6 separate regions of the Homo sapiens genome follow, and all the other regions are linked to region 3. The links come from fine-mapping of genetic effects on gene expression. A gene starts in region 3. Each other region holds a variant in brackets. All regions are shown on one strand. Distances are between the middles of the regions.

Region 1 (4,088 bases), 43 kb before region 3:
GACAGATGTACATATGAAAGGGAGTTTATTAAGGAGTATCGACTCAAACAATCACAAGGTGAAGTCCTACAATAGGCCATCTGCAAGCTAAGGAGCAAGAAGCCAGTCTGAGTCCCAAAACTTCAAAAGAGGGAAGCTGACAGTGCAGTCTTCAGTCTGTGGCCAAAGGCCAGAGTCCCTGGCAAATCACTTAAGTCCAAGAGTCCAATAGCTGAAAAACTTGGAGTCCGATGTTTGAAGGCAGGAAGCATCCAGCACAGGAGAAAGATGAAGACCAGAAGACTCAGCCAGTCTGTCCTTCCACGTTCTTCTGCCTGCTTTATTCCAGCTGCACTGGCAGCTGATTAGATTGTGACCACTGGATTGAGGATGGGTCTGACTTGTTAATCTCCTTTGGCAACATCCTCACAGACATACATATGGAGGAACAATACTTTGCATCCTTCAATCCAATCAAATTGACACTTGATATTAACCATCACAATAGCTCACTGCAGCCTTGACTGCCTGGGACTCAAGTGATCCTCCCACCTCAGCCTCCCGAGTAGCTGGGACCACAAGTGTGTGCCACGCCCAGCTAATTTATTATTATTGTTTATTTTATTTTTTTTAGAAATGGGGTATCACTATGTTTCCTAGGCTGGTTTTGAGTGTTTTTCTTTGGCCTATGTATTATTCAGAAGTGTATTGGTTAATAAGCTACTCCGGAGACTGAGGCAGGAGAATCGCTTAAACCTGGGAGGTGGAGGTTGCAGTGAGCTGAGATCGCACCACTGCACTCCAGCCTGGGCGACAGAGTGAGACTCTATCTCCAAAAAAAAAATAATAATAATAAAAGAAAAGAAGTATATTGGTTAATCTTTAAATATTTGACTATTTTCTAGCTATATTTCTGTTATTGAATTCTGTTTAATTTTTTTGTGATTTGGGGGCATACAATGTATGATTTCAAGCTCTTTAAATATGTTAAGGAGTGTTTTATGCCCAAAAATGTGGTCTATCGTGGTGAATATTCCGTGTGAACTTGAAATGAATATATAGACCAAGTTGACTCATGTTGCTGTTCACTTCAACTATGTCACTACCAATCTTCCTCCTGGATCTGTTAACTCCTAATACAGGGCTGTCAAAAACTCCAACTATAATAGCAGATTGTTTATTTCTTTTTGCAGTTCTATCAGTTTTTTTTCTCTCTTATGTATTTTGATACTAGGGCATACCCATAAAGGATTATGTCTTCTTGAAGAACTGATCTCTTTATCATTGTGTAATGGCCCTCTCTTTATCCTTTTTTTCTTTTTTTTTTTTTGTTTGTTTTTGAGACAGGGTCTTGCTCTGTCACCAAGGCTGAAGTGCAGTGTTGTTGCAATCATGGCTCACTGCAGCCTCAAACTCCCAGGCTCAAATGATCCTCTAGCCTCACCCTTCTGAGTAGCTGGGACTACAGGCACATACCACCACGCCTGGCTAACTTTTGTATTTTTTGTAGAGATGGCATTTCACCATGTTGCCCAGGCTGGTCTCAAGTGATCCTCCTGCCTCGGCCTCCCAAAGTACAGGGGTTACAGGCATGAACCATCACACCTGGCCCTCTTTATCCTTCATAATTTTCCTTGCTCTGAAGCTGACTCCATCTGAAACTAATACAGCTTTATTTTTTCTTTCATAGAGATGGGGGGGTCTCATTATATTGCCCAGGCTAGTCTCAAACTCCTGGCCTTAAGTGATCCTCCCGCCTCGACCTCCCAAAGTGCTGGGCCACCATGCCCAGCCTCCAGCCTTCTTTTGATTAGTGTTAGCATGATGCATCTTTCTCCATTCCTTTACTTTTAACCCATCTGTGTCTATATTTAAAGTTGATTTCTTACAGACAACACCAGTTGG[G/C]TCTTTTTTTTAAATTATTATTATTATTAGAGTCAGGGTCTCTCTGTCACCCAGGCTGGAGTTCAGTGGCACAATCACAACTCACTGCAGGCTCGACCTCCTGGGGTCAGGTGATCTTCCTGCCTCTGCCTCAGCCTCCAGAGTAGCTGGGACTACATGCACGCACCACCACACCGGCTTTTTGTACTTTTTATAGAGATGCAGTTTTGTCACGTTGCCCAGGCTGGTCTTGAACTCCTGGGCTCAAGCAGTCTCCCCAACTTGGCCTCCCAAAGTGCTGGAATTACAGGCACAAGCCACTGAGCCTGGCCCTTTTTAAAAAATTCATGTATTTAGACCATTGATAAAATTGCCATTGCTATTTCTTTTTTCTTTCTTTTTTTGTCTTCTTTGGTTTTAACTGATCATTTAATATAATTCCATTTTCTCTTTTCTGTTAATATAGCAGTTATACTTTTTTGGGGGCATAGGGTCTGACTCTGTCCCTCAGGCTGGAGTACAGTGGCACAACCATGGCTCACTGTAGCCTCAACCTCCCAGGCTCAAGAGATTCTCCTGCCTTAGCCTCTTAAGTAGCTGGGACTACAAGCCTGCAACACCATGCCTGGCTAATTTTCAAAATTTTTTTGTAGAGACAGGGTCTCACTATGTTGTCCCAGTTGCTCTCAAACTCCTGGATTCAAGTGATCCTCCTGTCTTGGCTTCCCAAAGTGCTGGGATTACAGGTGTGAGCCACTGCACTCAATCCTTCTCTTTAAAAAAATTTTTAGTTGCTGCCCTAAATTTCACAATATACATTTATAAGTAATCCAAGTCTCCTTTTCTCTTGTTTTCTTTCTCTCTCTCTTTCATTCCTTTTTCTTTCGAGACAGGGTCTTTCTCTGTCACCCAGGCTAAAGCACAGTGGTGCAATCATAGCTCACTGCAGCCTTACCTCCCAGGCTCAAGCAATCCTCCTGCCTCAGCCTCCTGAGTAGCTGGGCTAATTTTTATTTTCTGTAGAGAATACAGGTCTTGCTATGTTGCCCAGGCTGGTCTTGAACTCTTGGCCTCAAGCAATCCTCCCCATCTTGTTCTTCGAAAGCATTGAGATTACCAATTCCTCTCTCCCATTCTTTTTTTTTTTGTTTTTGTTTTTGACAAGAGGTCACCCAGGCTGGAGTGCAATGGTGTGATTTTGGCTCACTGCAACCTCTGCTTCCTGGGTTCAAGCGATTCTCCTGCCTCAGCCTCCTGAGTAGCTGGGATTACAGGCGCATGCCACCATGTCCAGCTAATTTTTGTATTTTTAGTAGAGACGGGGTTTCACCATGTTGGCCAGGATGGTTTTGAACTCTTGACCTTATGATCTGCCCACCTCAGCCTCCCAAAGTGCTGGGATTATAGGCATAAGCCACCACGCCCAGCCTCATTCTTTATAACATTGTTGTCATGTATTTCACTTATTCATAAGGTAATCACTGAATACATTGCTGGTATTATTATTTCGAACAAACTGCTATTTGTTACATCACTTCAGATTAAGAAAAATAAAATGTTTTGTTTTATCTTCATTTACTCCTTCTCTAATGCTCCTCCTTTCTTCCTATAGCCCCAAGTTTTTTTCATATAGCCCCTAGATCATTTTCTCTCTCTTCAAAGAACCTCTTTAATTTTCTTGCAAGGCAGATCTACTGGTGATAAATTTTCTCAAGTCTTCTTTGTCTGAGAAAATCTATTTCTTCTTCACTTCTGATGGATAATTTTGCTAGAAACAGAATTCTAGGCTGGTGGGTTTATCCCCCCTTTTTTTCTTTCTTACATATTTCACTTCACTCTCTTCTTGCTTGCATGTTTTCTGAAGAGAAGGCCAATGTAATCCTTATCCTTGTTCCCCTATAGGCAGGTGTTATTTTTCTCTGGCTCCTTTCAAGATTTTGTCTTCGATTTTCTGCAGTTTGAATATAATAATCTATAGATATAGATTATTACTTGGCATTTATCCTGCTTGGTGCTATCTGAGACTCTTGGATCTGTGGTTTGTTGCCTGTTATTAATTTTGTAAAATTCTTGATTGTTATTACTCCCTTATTATTCTCTTCATGTGCCTGGTTATTTCTGATTATATGATAGGCATTGTGTTTGAAAAATATTTTTAGAAATAATTGGAGGTCTAGGGGTACGTTTTCCTTCTACAGAATGGATATACATTTGTTTCTGGAAGG
Region 2 (4,088 bases), 39 kb after region 3:
TTGCTGGTGAGGAGCTGCATTCCTTTGGAGGAGGAGAGGCGCTCTGATTTTTAGAATTTTCAGTTTTTCTGCTCTGTTTTTTCCCCATCTAATGCAATATGGATTAAAGACTTAAATGTTAGACCTAAAACCATAAAAACCCTAGAAGAAAACCTAGGCATTACCATTCAGGACATAGGCATGGGCAAGGACTTCATGTCTAAAACGCCAAAAGCAATGGCAACAAAAGCCAAAATTGACAAATGGGATCTAATTAAACTAAAGAGCTCCTTCACAGCAAAAGAAACTACCATCAGAGTGAACAGGGAACCTACAGAATGGGAGAAAATTTTTGCAATCTACCCATCTGACAAAGGGCTAATATCCAGAATCCGCAAAGAACTCAAACAAATTTACAAGAAAAAATCAAACAAACCCATCAAAAAGTGGGCGAAGGATATGAACAGACACTTCTCAAAAGAAGACATTTATGCAGCCAACAGACACATGAAAAAATGCTCATCATCACTGGCCATCAGAGAAATGCAAATCAAAACCACAACGAGATACCATCTCACACCAGTTAGAATGACAATCATTAAAAAGTCAGGAAACAACAGGTGCTGGAGAGGATGTGGAGAAATAGGAACACTTTTACACTGTTGGTGGGATTGTAAACTATTTCAACCATTGTGGAAGTCAGTGTGGCGATTCCTCAGGGATGTAGAACTAGAAATACCATTTGACCCAGCCATCCCATTACTGGGTATATACCCAAAGGAGTATAAATCATGCTGCTATAAAGACACATGCACACGTGTGTTTATTGTGGCACTATTCACAATAGCAAAGACTTGGAACCAACCCAAATGTCCAACAATGATAGACTGGATTAAGAAAATGTGGCACATATACACTATGGAATACTATGCAGCCATAAAAAATGATGAGTTCATGTCCTTCGTAGGGACATGGATGAAGCTGGAAACCATCATTCTCAGCAAACTATCGCAAGGACCAAAAACCAAACACCACATGTTCTCACTCATAGGTGGGAATTGAACAATGAGAACACTTGGACACAGGAAGGGGAGCATCACATTCCAGGGCCTGTTGTGGGGTGGGGGGAGTGGGGAGGGGGGAGGGATAGCATTAGGAGATATACCTAATGTAAATGACGAGTTAATGAGTGCAGCACACCAACATGGCACATGAATACATATGTAACAAACCTGCATGTTGTGCACATGTACCCTAGAACTTAAAGTATAATAATAAAAAAAATAGCTGGGTGCAATGGCAGGTGCCTGTAGTCCCAGCTACTTGGGAGGCTGAGACACAAGAATTGCTTGAGCCTGGGAGGAAGAGGTTGCAGTGAGCTGAGATCACGTCACTGCACTCCAGCATGGGTAACAGAACTAGACTCTTCAAAACAAAACAAAACAGAAACAAACAGAAACAAAAACAAAAACAAAGCTCTACATCTTTTAGGACAAAATAATGCTCCCTAAAAAAATTGGGTAAAAAGGAAATCACAATGGAAATGATAAAATATTTAGAACTAAACAACCATGAAAGAATTACTATAACCAAAACCCATAGATGCATTAAAAACAAAACAACCAACAAAAATAGTTTAAAATAAATGAGTTATGCATGCAATTCACGAACCTGTAAAAGAATAACTAGAAAAGACCAAAGAAGGAAGAAAATTTTTAAACTAAACTTTGTAAAAATATGAAAAAACCTTAGGTTCAAATGA[C/T]AGACTAAAATCTATTTCTTTGGACAAAAACTAAATGAAAGGCAAACTACAAGTAAACCTAATTAAGCAAAAAAAAAAAAAAAAAAGAGTGAAAGCATGAAAAGGACATAACTAAAGTATATACGTAGGTATACATATTTACATATACATTACTCAAGCATATTTTATTGTTTAAATCTTCTGTTTCTTTACTGCTCTTTGGTGTTTTTGTTTGTTTGTTTTGAGATGGAGTCTTGCTCTGTCTCCCAGGCTGGAGTGCAGTGGCGTGATCTTGGCTTCCTGCAGCCTCTGCCTCCCGGGTTCAAGTGATTCTCCTGCCTCAGCCTCCTGAGTAGCTGGGATTACAGGCACTCACCATCACACTTGGCTAATTTTTGTATTTTTAGTAGAGACGGGGTTTCACCATGTTGGCCAGGCTGGTCTTGAACCCCTGACCTCAAGTGATCCACCTGCCTCGGCCTCCCAAAGTGCTGGGATTACAGGCCTGAGCCACCACACCGCACCATCTTTACTACTCTTTGTTTTATGTTTTTCTGTGTTAAGTCTCCCATGATGGCTTCACGTTTTAAATTTTTTCCTTGTAATACTATCAATATCTGCTTAATATTTTGAATCTATAAGATGGTAAATATCCAAATTAACCTGTGGATTCAATGCAATTCACAACAAAAATCTCACAGATTTTTTTTTCTGTGGAAAATGAACAAGAGTCAGGTACCCAAATTCAGGACAGCTCATTCTGTCCTTTTTGCAAAGGGCCCAAAAGGGCCAAGATAATTGTGAAAAATAAAAGGATGGAGACATTTACATTACCTGATGTGAAGATGACTTATCAAATTATTGTAATTAAGACTGTGGAAGTCAGGTGCAGTGGCTCACACCTATAATCCCAACTACTTGGGAGATTGAGGTGGGAGGATCGCTTGAGGACAGGAGTTCAAAACAAGCCTGAACAACACAGTGACACCCTGTTTCTCCCTCCTTCTCAAAAAGAAAAAAAAATAGATAATGTGGTATTGGCACATGATTACATAAACAGAACAGAATAGAAAGCCTAGAAATACAGAAGAAACATTAAAAAAAAAAAAACAGAATGAGGGAACTATGGACTGTCCACCTAATGGGGCTGATGTAACTGGTTAAATACGGAAAAAAACATAAAACTACATCCCTGCTTTGTGATCTTTTTGTTTTTAAGTTCCAAAAGATCAAAGGCCTATATGTGAAAAGCAAACTTTAGGGACCTTCACTGGCCGATCCAGAGGAAATCTAAGCATCAAAAAGAGTAATGAAAGTACTAGATTATTACACTTTGAATTTTTTTAAAAATCCATGAGTCCTAGGAAAAATCAATATCGTGAAAATGGCCATACTGCCCAAGGCAATTTATAGATTCAATGCCATCCCCATCAAGCTACTAATGACTTTCTTCACAGAATTGGAAAAAACTACTTTAAAGTTCATATGGAACCAAAAAAGAGCCCGCATTGCCAAGACAATCCTAAGCCAAAAGGACAAAGATGGAGGCATCATGCTACCTGACTTCAAACTACATTACAAGGCTACAGTAACCAAAACAGCATGGTACTGGTACCAAAACAGAGATATAGACCAATGGAACAGAACAGAGCCCTCAGAAATAATGCCACACATCTACAACCATCTAATCTTTGACAAACCTGACAAAAACAAGAAATGGGGAAAAGATTCCCTATTTAATAAATGGTGCTGGGAAAACTGACTAGCCATATGTAGAAAGCTGAAACTGGATCCCTTCCTTACACCTTATACAAAAATTAATTCAAGATGGATTAAAGACTTAAATGTTAGCCCTAAACCCATAAAAACCCTAGAAGAAAACCTAGGCAATACCATTCAGGACATAGGCATGGGCAAGGGCTTCATGTCTAAAACACCAAAAGCAATGGCAACAAAAGCCAAAATTGACAAATGGGATCTAATTAAACTAAGGAGCTTCTGCACAGCAAAAGAAACTACCATCAGAATGAACAGGGAACCTACAGAATGGGAGAAAATTTTTGCAATCTACCCATCTGACAAAGGGCTAATATCCAGAATCCGCAAAGAACTTAAACAAATTTACAAGAAAAAATCAAACAACCCCATCAAAAAGTGGGCGAAGGATATGAACAGACACGTCTCAAAAGAAGACATTTATGCAGCCAACAGACACATGAAAAAATGCTCATCATCACTGGCCATCAGAGAAATGCAAATCAAAACCACAATGAGATACCATCTCACACCAGTTAGAATGGTGATCATTAAAAAGTCAGGAAACAACAGGTGCTGGAGAGGATGTGGAGAAATAGGAACACTTTTACAC
Region 3 (4,088 bases):
CCAAGATCGTATCACTGCACTCAGCCTCAGTGTAGGCTGAGTGATAAAGCGAGACTCCGTCTCAAAAAAAAAAAAAAAAAGGAAAGGAATTATTCTCATGTATACAATAGTAGGAAACAACCTATAAAGCTTTTGAGAATCTTATAATTCACTGTGTACCTCCCTCTGTTTCATATTTTCGCAATTGAACTATAGAGCCTAGGCCTAGGTCTTAAGACTTTTCTTGTAACCTTCAGAGTGCCCAGCACTGGGATTGACATATACCAGTTAGACGGATTTTTTTTTCCATAAACCAGGCTCAAACTCTTCTAAACCAAAATCAACATATTCTGAGTGCCAATCTTGGGTAAGGCACTCTATTATTTGTCATGAAGGATTCAGAGGAAAATGTGATCTACCACACTCAACAGCAGGCCTCTTATCCTCTCCAGCTTAATGCATTTTACCAGTTAAGGACTACCCTGATGCTGAGATTGTGTTTCTTTCCCCAAATCAAATGTCACTCTCTAAGGGTCATCTGTATAATTAAATGCTTTTAATTCTATATATCAAATGATAACTTTTGTGAAAGTAATTTAAACACACTTGAAACATCATATAAAATATTACTACAAGACTTAACCGTAAATGTGGCTCCCACCCCCATAACATCTATACAATATAACCAAAGAGCTAGATTCCAGATTATCAAGAAACTTCTAAATTTTGAACCCATGCAGCAGAATTGTATTCCTTTACATTGTTGGCTCGACTTACAAATGTGCTGTGGAATAATTATCCTCAAATACAATTTTCAGTACTGATTACATAGCTGCCTAAAAGAAAACTGTTAGCCCCTTCCATTTTATGTGAAACCAATGTCTAAAGCGCTCTTGACTCTTCAACCCCACATTTTCCCCACCCTCATCCCTCCTCAATCCCCAGCCCCCACTCATCACATCCACTAGACCTGAACTTTGAACTCAATCATAATTCTTTGTGCCTCTGCTCAAGCCCTTCTTCCTGCCTGGAATACCCTCTTTTCAGTCCCGGCTAATTACATCTACCATCCCATTCCAAGTGGCCGCTGGAAACTCACTTCCTTATGTTCTATGATTTCTTTCACAATTTACACTTTTTTTGTTTTGTTTTGTTTTGTTTGGGGGGGGGGGTTGTTTTTCTGAGAGGGAGTCTTGCTCTGTTGCCCAGGCTGGAGTGCAGTGGCGCGATCTCAGCTCACCACAACCTCCACCTCATGGGTTCAACCGATTCTCCTGCCTCAGCATCCCGAGTAGCTGGGACTACAGGCGCGCGCCGCCACGCCTGGCTAATTTTTTGTGTTTTTGGTAGAGACGGGGTTTCACTATGTTGGCCGGGCTGGTCTCGAACTCCTGACCTCGTGATCCGCCCGCCAAACATTCTATGTGCCAGAAACTTGTATGTAACTTTGCATAGTTCTTGTATTATGTCTCCCCAATTTTGAGTGTTTTCTCTGGTCTCTACTCAGCCCTTGCTCACAGTCTCACTAGGACCCTGGCTAGCTTGAACACGGTCAGAAGGATCACCTTAGATTTCTGCTGGCACAGTATTTTCCATAAATTAATCTCCTGATTGAACCGTAGTCCTATAGTAGTTATCTTTGGATGAAAACCTAATGCAGCTCGAGGAGGAAGTGGAGTGCCTGTGATCAGAGGGCTGGACAAAAGCCCATAGGGCGTCTCTGGAGCCCTGGGGGAACTGTCCCCAGGCAGGCACTCTCAGGGCCCAGGAACAGGGCGGGACAAGTCCGACTCACCTGTGAGGTAAGGACGGGGCCAAGACCCGGAACCGAAAAGCAGGTCACGATAGCGCTGGAAGGCCTCGTCGAGGACTGAGCAGCCGGGCTGCGCGGCCGAGCTGACATCGTACTGGAATTGAAAGTTGTTCGGGTAAAGGACGTAGCGCTGGTCGGAGGTTTGGAAGTTCTGAGGCCAGGGCCAGAGGGCCGTCGCCCGTCCTGCGAACGCTGCCGCCAGCAGCAGCGAAAACCAAAGCCTGGAGCTTGTCATGGCCCGCTGGTCTCCCCTCTCGGAGGGGGCTGGCCACGTGAGACCCTGGTCAGGTGAGCGGCGCCCCCGTGACTTATCGGCGAATCACGTGACCAGAGGCGGCTCTGCGCCTGCGACCCCAGGAGGACCCACACCCTGCCCTTTCACTTCCGGCCTGGACCTGAGGCTCCTGCTACGTGCAGCGGATTGTGCCGGGCGTCGGCAACTGCTCGGCTCGCCAGACTGTTCACGGGCCCAGTAGAGCAGTAAATAACCGGCCACCCCTGCGGCCGTGCCGGCCGTGATGGAACTAGACAGCTCACCCGACTCGAGAAGAACGGGGTGGGGAGGCGAGGACGCAGGGCGACCTGGAGAAGAAAGTTTCCCAGATGGCTCTAGGGTGAATCTTGAATGTTGTGATGCAGCTCGCCAGGCCTACGGGGAGGTAAAGGACTTGCCAGGCTGAAGTAACTTCAGAAGCAGAAAAACGGAGGATTAAAACCACAAGTCGTTGTGATGTGAAATTTCGTGGGGCAAGAAAGGGCCGGAAGTAGGTAGTCTGCACGGCTCTGCTAGAGAGAGGATCACAAGATCACACAAATGTGATCTACTTATGACTGGAAAAAATGTGTACTTTCAGAGCCAGCTTGAGGCATTCCATTGCCTCCAATATGAGCTCTTCCCTTCAAGATTGACTATAAATCTCTTAGTTACAACTCACATCCCCTTTCCCCAGACAAAACCCCACATAGCCCGGTGTGTATTTACTGAAAGCAGTAAGATATTGCTGGGGCTTTGGGTGCAAGATGGAGAGTGCTCAGAGATAATGACAGGGGCCTGGTCCTGCAGGGCCTTACGTAGAAAGTCAAGGAATTTATTCTCTGAGCAATTGAAAATCATCCCGAAAGATCTGCATTTTAGAAATACCATGTTGAGTAGTTGCATAAGAAACCAGTTAGGAGGCCCCTTTTTATTGGAGGTAGAGAATAATGAGAGACTGAACTACAGAAGTGGGGAAGGAAGACAGCTGTAGATCCAAGAAATAGTATCCGGAAGAGAGGCTTGAGAAGTGATCAAGGAGAATTCCACAGTTATCAGAGACCCTGTCTTCCTTGTTCACCACTATATTACCAGAACATAATACAAATAATGCTATTGTTATTGGGTGGCATTATTTGGTTAGTAGGTACTTTTTAAAATTTTTAAATTTAATTTTAGTATTAAAATACATGTAAAGATCAGGAAAATGAACTTTTAAAAATAAAGGGCTTTCACTGGGCATGATAACACATCCCTGTAGTCCCAGCTACTCCCAGCTATTCAGGAGGCTGAGGCGGCAGGATCACTTGAACCAAGGAGTTCAAGTTTAGCCTGGGCAGTATAGTGAAACCCTTTCTCAAAAACAAATAAAGGGCTACTGAAATAATGATAATTTATATTCAGGTCGTAGGTACCTAATTACTAGTTACACATACATGGCTTTGATGGGAAATCAAAGAAACATTCTGACAATACAGAGATTCATCAAGCAATTTGTCTTTGAAAGTTGATTATTCAAAAACAGAGCTTGTAGCAAAAGAAGCAGAAATTAGATCCCACAGTCATCAAGTTTCAGATCCTAAGGCTTGCATTCTTACACCAATTTCTTCTTTGCTTAAATCTTAATTTTCATCAGCATTAATTAAGTGTCTGGGTACTCTGCCAGTCAGGAGAGATGTTACCAAAGGTACAGGATTTGAGAAGTATTGTCAGAAGAGCCAAGTTCATAATCAGGCCCACAGGATCAATAATTTGGGGGAGTGTTTAGAGCAGTTTCAAAGATGAGAGCAGTAGATCAAAGTAGAATTTCAGGACTGAGCACATGCCAAGGCACCCTTTTATGGATATTCAACCTGTACCAGAAGGGAGGAGTCATTTACTTAAAAGAGTTACACAAGATGAAAGAGCTAGATCCAAATAAAGACGCTATAAAAATTACTAATGGGGCTGAGCATGGTGGATTACAGGGATTCAGTTATTTAATTATTACTGAAAGAGCTCTTTTAGACTTAACCAGATTTTTAAACCAAATATTCTTATGCA
Region 4 (4,088 bases), 73 kb before region 3:
GGGACTAAAGATGTATGCCACCACACCCAGCTAATTTTTGCATATTTTTTGCAGAGACAGGGCTTCACCATGTTGCCCAGGCTGGTCTCAAACTTGTGAGCTCAAGTCATCCTCCCGCCTTGGCCTCCTAAAGTGCTGGGATTACAGGCACCAGCCCACATGCCCAGCTGTAAATTATTTTATTAAAACATGGGAGTCTCATCCATTTAAGGTTACCTACCTGGGCTCCTGTAGTATTTGAGCTGATGATCCCTACTTGATGGGAAGAAAAATCATGCATAATCCCTTCCAGAAGAAACTGGAAGGTTTTGGAAGAATATGTTGGCCTTGATATCCCTTAGATTGTTTTCATTGACATCAGTACTCTTATCGGATAAAGAAACCATTATTAACCAATGGTAAACTAAGGGATTTAATTTCAGGAATAATTTTAGAAGACACAGGCTTACTGGCGTAAATATATCTGGTCAGGTGTGTGTGACCATTGACTCTGACAGTTTATAGAATGTTTGAGGTCACAGATATAAGACTTAAATGGGACACGCTGTTCCACGTTGTTGCCAAATGTTACATTTTAAAAGCAAAATCCAATACCATTTTAAAAAGTTGATTTTTTTTTTTTTTTTTTTTGAGACAGAGTCTCACTCTGTCACCCAGGCTGGAGTGCAGTGGTGCGATCTTGGCTCACTGCAAGCTCCGCCTGCTGGGTTCACGCCGTTCTCCCGTCTCAGCCTCCTGAGTAGATGGGACTACATGCGCCCGCCACCACACCTGGCTAATTATTGTATTTTTAGTAGAGATGGGGTTTCACCGTGTTAACCAAGATGGTCTTGATCTCCTGACCTCGTGATCCGCCCGCCTCGGCCTCCCAAAGTGCTGGGATTACAGGCGTGAGCCACTGCTCCCAGCCAAAAAGTTGACTTTCTAAAGCATTAGGTTGTGTTAAAATTCAGCAGAGGGTTGAACTCACTTTAGAAGAGATATATGATAGCACTGAAGAAAATACATTTTGATTAGTAATGATTATCTAACACAGATCTGTTAGTATTAAAATACTTATAAATTGTAAAGGCCCAACTGTTCTGCAAGACTGGATACATAGGCCTTTTCTCTCCTGAATATATAGTAGGGAGCAGGGAGGAATTGAGAGATCTGGTCATCCAAACCTGCAAGAAGGATTATTCATGGATGCATTTGGAGTGTATGCTTCTTGAGAGCCACCACTTGTCCAGAAATATCTGTGTAACACAACTGCTAAATTATGAGTTCTGCTGCCAGGCAATACTCTTTTTCAGCTAGATTTGCTTTTCCTGCTCTTTTAAACAGGTGTATAGGTGGAAATGCCATATGTACAGAATTTTTTAATGATGTGACACCTGCAAAGTTTATACAAAAATGTGGAAAGAAAATTCTACAACTCAAGCTGATGTCATTGCTTAGAGCCCAGACCACCAGAACACATCAACCAGGCCAAGCAAAAGCACTATCAGCATGGAGGCCCCCTTTGTGCGGCTGCCCAAACACTGACAAGATGTAGTGGACTCCATACAGCAGGAGTGCCCTAGCATTGTGGACTTAGTTCCTGAGCAAGACTCCAAATTGCACCACGTTCTTCTGAGCTCTGGGGCCTGCGGACATGCTCTTCCTCTGCCCAACATGCTTGCTCCCTCTCTCCTCTTTTCTCTGACTACTTCCTATTCATCCTTGAGGTCTCAGCTTAAATATTACTCCTCTGGGAACCCACTTTGATCTTCCAGACTGGGTTAGGTGCCCCTTGTTTGTGTCCCCACAATTCCCCTGGACTTCCCCTTGAAAGCAGTGATCACACTGAATTGTGTTCCCTTGTTTACTTGTCCATATCCTCTCATAGCATCCGTGCTTCATGAGGCCAGGTACCAGGTCTGCTTTGCTCACATCTGTATTCCTGCTGTGGAGTAAGTTGCTCAGAAGATGTTGGTTGTGTGGTTGAACCTGTCTGCTTCACAGCTCACTCACATACTCTTAGTTGGCTTCTCAGCTGTGGGACTGGCTCATGGTTGTGGGCAGGGCTTAGTAGTTGGCCAACAATGGCCTTGATGCATAAAAGAGTTTCCCAAGAGGCAGAAATTCTTGGGTTACATGAACATGAAGTTTTGCATGCAGCCTGGAACATCTCAAAAACCTGACTGGAAAGAATAAAAAGGGAAAGGAGAATGTGTGTGTGGATGGAGGAGGAAACTTGGAAATATCTCTCCAAGACAAGGTGAAGGTGATAACATTTTGACCAGAAATCAAGAATCAGAGACCAGAGGTCAGAGAATCTAAAAGGATAATGGAAGTATTTCTTGGAGGAACGAACTTCACAGTGGAACCACAAAGTCACCAGAACTCTGTGTGTGGGTTCTCAGACTGAGCATGAAGTCTGAGAGGGGTACAGAATTAG[T/C]AGGACTCAATACATGTTTATATCAATTGGGTTCCATTCTGTTCCTGAACTCGGGCAGCTTCTTTCAGCTAGCAAAGCCATGGCTGATCTTGGGTTAGACAGGAAGAGAGTCTTACCCAAGATAAAGAGTCAGCAGACATCAGGGAGGGCTATAGGCTGATACACTGGAAGGATCTAAGATGCAAGGGTGAGAAAAACACCAAGAACTGACACCAGAATCCAGCCTTGCCTTTACAGCTTGGAAGCTGGCCAGAACCCAGCTGGTTAGAAGAAAGCACAGGCTCTCTAACCGTCCTATGTGGTTTTGTTTTTGTTTTTGTTTTTGTTTTGATACAGAGTCATGCTCTGTTGCCCAGGCTGGAGTGCAATGGCGTGATCTCGGCTCACTACAACCTCCGCCTCCCAGGTTTAAGCGATTCTCCTGCCTCAGCCTCCCTGCCTCAGCCTCCGAGTAGCTGGGATTACAGGCATCCACTACCACACCCGGCTAATTTATCTATTTGTAGTAGAGACGAGGTTTCACCATGTTGCCCAGGCTGGTCTCGAACTCTTGGCCTCAAATGATCCACCCACCTCAGCCTCCCAAAGTGCTGGGATTATAGGTATGAGCCACCGTGCTCAGCCCACCTCCTGTTCTTAAGGAGCTCTGTTTTTTCTCTACCAGGAAACAGTGTAGCTATCAGAGCTTTCCATGGTCCTCAGCATAGAGGACTTACTATGGCCCATAAAGTCTGTCGTACCAGCCTTATCTTTTACCATGAGCAGCTAGGCAATTACAATGAAGGAATGGCCTCAATCCGAAACGGACTGTGTTTTCTGATATCAGAAGGATATGGAGAAGGAGAATAACCCCCACCTGATTCTTAAAAACAACAACAACAACGAAACCCTGAAAGTTCCATGTGGCAAAACAGGAATGATCTCTCTCCAAGGGTAAGTGGCAAGAACCCCCTTTCTCTATCACTGGCATCTGTTTAGGCCCTTCTTGCCTCTTCTGGGCCTGGGCTCCCCAGAACCCCAGCCCTGCTCAGTCTGAGCAGGGAAGGCTGAGCTATTTCTGGGGCTCAGCAACTCTGAGCCCCACCTGTCCCCTTGACCCAGGGAGGCTCTCATACTAAATGGGTAGGACAGACTCCAGGTGTGGGCCCACCCTCCCTTACACGGGTTGCAGCCTGAGGTTGGTCAGACAGGGAAGTTACCTCCTCGGCCCTCACTGGCAGCTGGCTTCACTTGGATCGGACGATTCATCTGAAAGACATCGGACCAACACACCCATTCAGCGTGACTGCCTGGTCCTGGAGCCCCCAGCTTCTCGAACCCTGGACTCCTCAGGATCTGAGCCCTAGCCCCTTTGAACTCTGCACTCTACCACTTCCAAACTGGGATTACAGATTTTCTCCAAGATTCCTTCCTTAAACCCAGGAATTTAGAAGGTGCTGAAACTGGCAGGGATGGGTGACAGGAACTTAGTGGCAAGCACAAGGTGGAATGAAGCGGCTAAAGAGACTTTTCTGCCTGGGGCTCTGGGCAGGGGCTATGTGAGGCCTGTCCCTTTGGCTTCTGGACTTACTTAAAGGCTTTGCATGAGAGGATTGGGAAGGAGGGTAGAATTGATACTGCAGATTTGTGTTTTATGTCTAAAATGGAGAATATCACGCTATGTGTC
Region 5 (4,088 bases), 85 kb before region 3:
CGTACCTGCCGCGGGCAACAGAGGCGCAGCTACCAGGCTAAAGGCCGCCACGTGTTGCATCTGGGCCGCCACTGCCGCCACCGGGCCTAGGCCTGGGCCCTGTGCCGCCGCCAGCAGGGCCGCCTGGTGCTGCAGGATCTTTGAGAGGAAAGATGGGCGAGAGTGGAGGGCCAAGGGGCAGGCAGCTGCCCGTGCTCTCAGCCCCAGGCCTGGCCCACCCACCTGCGCGCCCTCGCACGCAGGTGCCCGGTACCTACCGCCGTGGTGTAGGCGCCGCAGGCCCCTAGCGGCAGTGGCGCGGGGTGGAAGGCGCCCAGGTGGCCGGCCATCTGCTGCATCCGCCGCAGCGCGCGCTCCCGGTCGGTGTCCGCCAGCTTGACCACGAGGCTGGACGAGGCGCCCTGGGCAGGGCAGGGGAGGCCGTGGTGACCGGTCCTGACCCTGGCCCCGGCCCGGGGCCGAGCGCCTTTCCCATCAGGTCCTTTCGCGGGGCACCGAGCACACTCGGGGAGGAGAAGCCCGTCCCCACCCCACTGGCCTCACCCTCAGCCCAGGGAACCCGCCCTCACCGCCATGGTCCGGCTGCCGTGCAGACCCCGGATGGCCGCCTGAGCTTCCCCTTGACTCCCGAACTTCACAAAGGCACAGCCTGGGGCAGGACAGAGGGAGCGGGTGGCTCAGGCCACAGGGGCCAAAGAGTTATGTGGCCCAGAGTGAGGAAGGGTCACCAGGAAATCCCGGGGTCAGCTCAGGTCACCTTTACTGGTGCCGTCAGGACTCCGCAGGACCGTGCACTCCTCGATGTGGCCAAAGGGCTGGAACAGGCGTCTGACGTCCTCCTCACCCTGCTGCTTGCCCAGCATCCCCACAAACAGCTTTCGGTCCTCTGGGGACAAAGCCAGGAATGACCTGGGGACCCCAAGTCTTCCTAGACCCCCGAGAGTAGCCTGAGGAACTTAGGAAGGCAGCTCACCAGTCTCACTCTGGGAAGCAGAGGGAGTGAGAAGGCCCTGGGCTTCCAGGGTTGGTTTTCATTGAGGGGCAGGATCTGGGGAAGGGATCTGGAGAAGGGAGCTCAGCTCAGCTTTCCATCAGGAAAACCTGGGTCCTGGGGAAACCCAGAGAGGCTCAGGGCTGCTCTTGTGGGGAGTAATGCAGTCTTGATATCTCTGGCTGGGTAGAGCCCTATATGCATTGTTTTACATGTTTGACCTTTCTGTTCTTAGAGGTTGGGAAACGCTGTTTTGGACCATTTCTGTACTATTAAGGAAGCGGGTGCTCAGAGAAAGCCTTTCTATTCAGACTGGGTCCAGAGAAGAGAAGTACATCCTTGCTGGTCAGCCTGATAGTGCTGGCTAGAATCAATGCCCCTTCCTGCTAATATCAAGGAGGGTTCTGGATTTAGAAACAGCACAGAAAACAGTCCTGTCATCCTACTGCCTCATCTTTAGGCACTGAGCACTGGCATGATGAATCCTTACCCTCTGCACCACATCCAACCTGGATGCCCCTCCCAAAGGCCTACAGAGAGCAGGACCTTGGTTTCCTGAGCCTCCAACATTAGCATTTTTCCTACTACAGTTGCTGAACCCCTGACCCCTTTCCTTAACTCCCACCTCCACCACCCTGTCCCTTCAGCAAGCTTCTAGTGCCCTGTCTGTATCCTTCCCTCTGATTCCCCTGTCCTCTTGCCCTGATGCCTCCCAAAATGTTCATGCTATGAGAGAACAAGTTCTGCCTATAGACCTGGATTGCCACCAGAGAACCAGTCTGATTCCTCCCTGTGTCCACCCTTTCTATGGGAGTGGCAGAAATGCAGGAAAGGGGCTGCAAGCTGGGCCTGTGTCCCTCGAAGAAAGCTGGAGAGCTGGGGCTGGAAACTAGGGTTTTGCCGCACATCCAGCAAGTTAGGCCTCAGGAACACTCTGGGAGCGTGGGGTAGAGGGGTCCAGCCTGCTGTTAAAGTCTGGGGCTCTTCTCTGCACCAAGGTAAATCTCTGAATTTGGGATGGGGCTTGACCATGTAGGGGACAATACAAGTTGGGAGAGAAGGAGTGGGTAGGAAACTGGTTTCAGGCTTCATCTTCAAGACCTTGGAGTGCAGGAAAACCCATCCTAAATGGTTCTACTCCTTGACCAGCTTGGCTAGGCAGATGGGGGTCCTTGGATTCTGAGTGCAGGGAAAACAAGGCTAGTGGGGGGTCATAGACTGAAGCCTGGGTGACAGCGAAGGAAGAACAGACTGTTCAAAACTGAACGAAGTTAGCAGGGGAGAAATCTCCAACAAGACTATGTGTGTGTCCATATGTCACCCGGGTGGTGTGGGGTTTGGCCTAGGCTGCCTTGGGGATCCTGAAGTGTCTGTCTGTCTGACGATGCTATGTCTGTGTGGAGGGCAGGGGCTGCAGTTCATAAGGGGCAGGCAAAATGTGTTTTAGCAAAATTCTGCCGTCTGTCCAGAGAGGTACCATCCGATGATCCTTGG[A/G]GAGGGGATGGATAATGGACTTGTGGCTGGAATTCTGATGGAGGAAAGAAGGTCTCACCAGTGACCTTCTGTGGTGAGAGTACAACCTGGTGGGTGTACTTTGCTTCTGGGGGTGTCAGCCACAGAATAGTGCCCTTGGAACAGATCACTGGTTTCCCAACCTTTTGAAAAATCAGTGGAATACATTGTTCTAACATAAATATTAGGATGAAGCTCAAAATGTAAGAGAAAAATAGAACTGCTGTGACTGAAGCCAGAAAAGGAGGGGTGGAGTTCATCTTGCTTGATCCTCCCCTAATACTCCCTAGAGGGGCTCCAAGGAAAGCCCTTTGAAATTACTGACCTAGAAGATAGAGAACAGAGTTCCAGCTGTTGTTTGAGGGGGGATCTGAGATCATCCTGTTCAGGAGCCTGAGAAGACAGGAAAGGTCTTTCATGAGTCTCTCAACCAATCTGATGGCTTTGCCTTGACATTGGAGAATGGGCTCATTTGGCCAGAGAATCAAACCCCGAAAGACCATGCCATTGTTCTAAGTTATTCTGGGCTGCAGAAGGCCTGGGAGAGGCTGGAGAAGAGTCTAGGGCCTCCATAGTCCCAAGGGGGGCTTCACAATGCCCTAATTTGTAGTGGAGCTGTGTCATTGGGCAGGGTCTGAAAAATGGTGATGGCACCCCAATAAGATATCATACCACATGGACCAGAATCCAGGTAGCCTTGTGTAGGAAGAGAGACATCACAGGCTGAGATAGAGCCCATAAGACAGAAAAGAGGTTTGTACTGACAGTGGTGATCTGATCCTTCATCTGCTCTGCCTCTTGTTGCTTTTTCTGCTGATGGTGAAATTTTCCGATCCTCTTTTCCAGTGAGAATCTCACAAGTTAAGAATTTTCAGCAGGGCGCAGTGGCTCACGCCTATAATCCCAGTGCTTTGGGAGGCCAAGGTGGGCTGATCACTTGAGGTCGGGGGTTTGAGACCAGCCTGGCCAACATGGTAAAACCCCATCTCTACTAAAAATATAAAAATAGCCAGGCGTGGTGGCACATGCCTATAATCCCAGCTATTCAGGAGACTGAGGTGGGAAAATGGCTTGGACCTAGGAGGCGGAGGTTACAGTGAGCCGAGATTGTACCACTGCACTCCAGCCTGGGCGACAGAGTGAGACTCCAACTAAAAAAATTTTTTTTTCCATTTCCCTGTCAGGGCACTGACCCTATGGATCTGGACTACTGGGATGTACAGAGTTTGGAATGGAAATGAGTATCTACCATGGGGTGGGCTCTAGGCTCCTGTTTCCCAGGTATCACCTTAAATCCTGGTATCCTCTTTGCCACTTTACAGGGACCTTGATTGTGTTTGACAGGAGGATAAGCTGGATCACAGTGGTCATGAGCCTCAGGTGACCCAGAAATGGTGGGATAAGTTTCTTAAGAGACCCGGCCAAAGAGAAGTACATGCTGGACCCCTAACAGTAGCCCCGCAAACCCACAGATCTGAACATTCTGATGGCTGATCATTGATTGCCTCCAAAGAGAGATGATGATGGGATGTAGCCCAGATAATTCAGTTTCCTCTAGATCAAATTCTATCATTTGGATAAAAAG
Region 6 (4,088 bases), 30 kb after region 3:
GGGCAGATCGCTTGAGCTCAGGAGTTTGAGACCAGCCTGGGCAACATGGTGAAACCCCACCTCCACCAAAAATACAAAAAATTAGCCAGGTGTGGTAGTGTGCACCTGTGGTCCCAGCTACTCAAGAGGCTGAGGTGGGAGGATAGCTTGAGTCTGGGAGTTGGAGGCTGCAGTGAGTAGAGATCATGCTACTGCACTCCAGCCTGGGTTACAGACTGAGACCCCGTCTCAAAGAAAAAGATAAAGAAAAAAAAATGTGGCTCAGAAGAATAACATAGACTCCCAAGGCAGGAAGTTCGCTGGACCTTAGGGGATTCCAGAGGAGGCTGGGATCTCAGATAAAGAAAATCAAGCCAGCCAGTCACTCAGATTTTCTACAGTCACTTTGTCATTCAGCTTTGTTTATGTTTTGTTTTATCTCTACAGCTCAGTTTTTCCTGTTTATTAGTGTGTAAGTGCCTAAAAGGTGATACCCCGGTCAAACTTTACATCTTCTCAGTTCAAGCAAGCAAAAGAGGAAATCCAATTTCTAAGCATAAGAATAAAATTGTCCCAGGATGGGTCAGGTTCCCATGCTTAGTCCAGGTAGCTATAGTCAGAGGGCTATACAGACAATAGTCAAGGGCTATAGACAAGGGCTGCTAGAGCTCATGGAGGATTGTGGACTAAATACCACAAAGGCTGCCTGTTACCCTGGGCTTCATACAGCTCAATCTGGGCTTATGTTCTGGCTGGCTACATATACTGCTAATTCTGCATAACCCAGTCTTCAGAAAATGTGCAGCTTGTGAATTACTATGTTTTAATGTGGCTCACTTGTTAGGGCTACAGAGCAACTTAACATCTGTGGATAGGGGTGTGGTTTCTCTGAATGGAAATTCCTGCAATTCATCATATTAGTAAGTGGCAGGTTCTGGAGAACAAAATGAAACAAGGAGGCAGATATTAGACTGGATAAGCTTGATACATAATTTCTGCTCTCTGGGTTACTCAGAAGCTGGACTTGGATTCTTAGGCATATAAGTGGTTAGAGAACTTTCTAACCACTGGGGTGGGGGTGAGCTGGTCCCTGCTACACTGGGACAGAAAAAGAAGCTAGATAAGGAGGCACCTTATAAGGGATACTGAAGATATTCCTGGGTGTCTGGTAGCTCAGAAAAGCTATAGCTACTTGTAATTATAAGTTATCTTCTAAATCTTCAGTAAAATATTGATGGGGAAGTCGAAGAACCTGTTCCATCTTAGGGATGTGGTAGCAAAAAGTAAGGTTGAGCATATCCCCGCTGCTCTCTTACCAACATCCAGTCCGCAGTGGCAGAGCCAAAGAGAAGACACCTAGAGCCAAAGATGGAAGAAGGAGAGGTGTGGCACTTGGATAAGAGCAACTTGAACAAATATGAGATAGGACTTTGGGGGACTCTCAGAATAAAAAAAAAGTGGAGGGAAACACTTTGTGGTAAGTTCCTGCAGCTTGGTAAATTGGGGCTTGAAATCATCATAATATGGAATTAAAGTAAATGAGGCTG[G/A]GCGAGGTGGCTCACGCCTTTAATCCCAGCACTTTGAGAGGTCAAGGCGGGCAGATCACCTGAGGTCAGGAGTTCAAGACCAGCCTGGCCAACATGGTGAAACCCTGTTTCTACTAAAAAAAAACAAAAATTAGCCAGGCATGGTGGCATGTGCCTGTAATCTCAGCTACTCTGGGTGACAGAATGAGACTCTGTCTCAAAAAAATAATAATAAAATAAAGAAATAGATAAATAAAGTAAATGTGACTTCATTTTGTAGTCATAGGCTGACAAGGCCTGTACATGCCAGATAGAGCTGGAAGTGAAAAACCAATGGAACTAAACAATGGGTAAGTCATTAAGCAAAGTATATTAATATGATAGAATATTTTGTAGCCATCGAAAATAATATTTACAACAGATAATGGGGAAAATCACATCATATATTCTTAAGAAAAAAACCCACATGATATCTAGTATCATATCTACTATGTACAGAGGGTAGAAAAATAAAATATTAACAATGGTTGCCTCTAGGTAGTCAAATTGTGGCTAATTTTTTTCCTGCTTCTTTGTTCTTTTGTAGTCTTTTGAATACTTATGTTGAACGCGTATTACTTACTACTTTTAGAATTAGAATTAGAAACAAGAAAAAGGTTTAATCTGTTTTGTCATTGGTGACACCTTTTATAAGCTAGTTTATATCTAAATCAATGCATGCAGAAGTATTTGTATATTATCTTTAGTTTAACAATCATAGTAAAGAAATTCCAAGCAAAAAGGATGTCATGTAGCAAGCTCTGCTCCATCATCCTTTGTTCTTAAATCCTTCTCTAAGACTCTATCTGGCCTTTTTAAGGGAAGGTCCCTCACTGGACTAACCACGGTCTTCCTTTCCTCTTCTTCATGCAGATTATCTCCAATATTCCAGGGCCTTCTTTCTCATCTCTGTCTTTACCATACTTACTGGCCTTGGCTGGCTCTTCAGCTCTTGGATCCTTAATCGAGGAAGCATGACCACCAACTTGGATCTGAAGGTATCCATGCTCAGCTTCATCTCAGGTACAGACCTAGACTGGCAGGGTATTTTACCATGGTAAAATAGTCAAGGTAACAAATTTTCTCTGTGGAACTCTCATACTCTTTTTCTTATCTCTTTGCTCTTCTTCAGTATCACACCAACTTGCCAGCTATCTGCCTTATCTAATTATATAGAACACACCTTAGCTGACTTTACCAGGGTATAGAGCCTTTCTCTCATCTTGGTCAGTCCCCAGGTTTTTATCTTTTTGATCCTCGCTATACATATGGCCTCTGGAGGCCAAAGAGCTGGGGGTGGCGGGGAAGACAGACTGAAGATGCTGATGGGTTGTGACATCTTTCCTTCTGGTCCTAGCTACCTGCTTGCTCCTCTGCCTCAACCTGTTTGTGGCACAGGTTCACTGGCATACTAGGGATGCCATGGAGTCAGATCTCCTATGGACCTATTATCTTAACTGGTGCAGTGACATCTTTTACATGTTTGCTGGTGAGTCACTTCCCTGCTCTATGCTAGAAGGATGGATAGGGAAATCGCTTCTGGAAAGGGAGGTATAATCCAGGAGAAATAGAAGCACTGACTGTTCCTTTTCAGAACACTGATACTTGGAGAGTCAGGGGGGCATAATGAAGAAAGGGTGGATTTTAGAGTCTGAAAACCTAGCATTAGTAACCTGCTCTATCACAAAGTGAGGCATGGACAAGTTGAGTAACTTGCCCAAGACCACACAGAAAATAGTGGAACTATGATCTGAATCCAGGAGGTTCAAGCTTTGTCCTAATCAGTCTGAGAAATATTATAATGCAATTAGAGCACAGGAGGGTAAAGTAACTCCACTGGGGGAGAGAGGGGTTCACTGAAAAGATGCCTCTTGAACTGGTTATTAAAGGATGCATAAGAATTTTAAAAGCCAAAAGACCATTGCCTATTGAACCTCACCTCAAATTATTCCCTTCCCGTAGGGATCATCTCTCTTCTCAACTACTTAACTTCCAGATCGCCTGCCTGTGATGAAAACGTCACTGTGATTCCAACAGAGAGATCAAGGCTGGGGGTTGGTCCGGTGACTACAGTATCACCTGCTAAAGATGAAGGGCCAAGGTCTGAGATGGAATCTCTAAGTGTGAGAGAGAAAAATTTACCAAAGTCAGGACTGTGGTGGTGATAGGAAAACCTAACTATAGCTTGTCTTAAAAGCAGGGGAGAAGCTGAGTTGGGAATGGTCACATAAATTCTGGGAAACTCTCCTAATATCATGTCCATATTACTTGAGGAGACAGCATTAAAGCTGATGAAATGTCTTTTGCGTGCATTGGATCCAAAATATATATGATAGTCATAAAGTAAATAACTCACTTAAGAAAAACATTTCTAAAAGAAAACAACAATGTTTAGAGTCATGAATGAAAGAAACTAGTGAAAGATGCAGTGTGTAGACCAGAGACCTCTTTGGGTATCAGGGATCTCATGGACCAGAATGGCCCGTGGAGAAGAATGTTAATTACTTCTGTTTGGAATTTTCTTTATTATGTGTGGCTTTGGGT

Direction of the effects. Alleles are on the strand shown, and positions count from the first base shown. SD is a standard deviation of normalised expression in the study named. Not every link is listed here.
In carriers of allele C in region 2, the expression in unexposed skin of the gene that starts at base 2,069 in region 3 tends to be higher than with T alone (small effect, 0.33 SD a copy in GTEx).

What was found. PIP is the estimated chance that this variant, and not a neighbour inherited with it, causes the effect. A credible set is the group of variants that fine-mapping cannot tell apart.
Region 1: its variant is the best candidate, but not a certain one, in a credible set for the expression of HEXA in blood mononuclear cells (TOPMed, PIP 0.67).
Region 2: its variant is the best candidate, but not a certain one, in a credible set for the expression of HEXA in unexposed skin (GTEx, PIP 0.61).
Region 4: its variant is the best candidate, but not a certain one, in a credible set for the expression of HEXA in aorta (GTEx, PIP 0.67).
Region 5: its variant is the best candidate, but not a certain one, in a credible set for the expression of HEXA in subcutaneous fat (GTEx, PIP 0.83).
Region 6: its variant is the best candidate, but not a certain one, in a credible set for the expression of HEXA in T cells (TOPMed, PIP 0.84).

The regions. Positions count from the first base shown.
Region 1 is chr15:72,331,043-72,335,130 of GRCh38, forward strand. No RefSeq gene overlaps it. Among named protein-coding and RNA genes, the nearest start is that of CELF6, 13 kb to the left of the region's middle. The variant G/C (reference allele first, on the strand shown) is at 1,885.
Region 2 is chr15:72,412,618-72,416,705 of GRCh38, forward strand. The region is part of intron 2 of TMEM202-AS1 (TMEM202 antisense RNA 1); the gene reads right to left. Among named protein-coding and RNA genes, the nearest start is that of TMEM202, 16 kb to the left of the region's middle. The variant C/T (reference allele first, on the strand shown) is at 1,742.
Region 3 is chr15:72,373,946-72,378,033 of GRCh38, forward strand. HEXA (hexosaminidase subunit alpha) reads right to left here and starts at 2,069. Exons shown (of 14, transcript NM_000520.6): 1 at 1,775-2,069. The coding sequence starts at 2,027. It overlaps HEXA-AS1 (HEXA antisense RNA 1), which reads left to right and starts at 2,168. Exons shown (of 1, transcript NR_027262.1): 1 at 2,168-4,088. RefSeq lists enhancers at 1,305-1,860, 1,861-2,417, 2,309-2,448, 2,779-2,828.
Region 4 is chr15:72,301,125-72,305,212 of GRCh38, forward strand. CELF6 (CUGBP Elav-like family member 6) reads right to left here. Exons shown (of 13, transcript NM_052840.5): 3 at 3,622-3,670. Among named protein-coding and RNA genes, the nearest start is that of CELF6, 17 kb to the right of the region's middle. The variant T/C (reference allele first, on the strand shown) is at 2,423.
Region 5 is chr15:72,289,370-72,293,457 of GRCh38, forward strand. It overlaps CELF6 (CUGBP Elav-like family member 6), which reads right to left. Exons shown (of 13, transcript NM_052840.5): 4 at 758-886; 5 at 570-649; 6 at 258-401; 7 at 6-138. Among named protein-coding and RNA genes, the nearest start is that of PARP6, 19 kb to the left of the region's middle. The variant A/G (reference allele first, on the strand shown) is at 2,486.
Region 6 is chr15:72,404,185-72,408,272 of GRCh38, forward strand. It overlaps TMEM202 (transmembrane protein 202), which reads left to right. Exons shown (of 5, transcript NM_001080462.3): 3 at 2,418-2,567; 4 at 2,902-3,033; 5 at 3,507-4,088. The coding sequence ends at 3,709. TMEM202-AS1 (TMEM202 antisense RNA 1) reads right to left here. Exons shown (of 4, transcript NR_135678.1): 4 at 3,595-3,661. Among named protein-coding and RNA genes, the nearest start is that of TMEM202, 7.9 kb to the left of the region's middle. The variant G/A (reference allele first, on the strand shown) is at 1,527.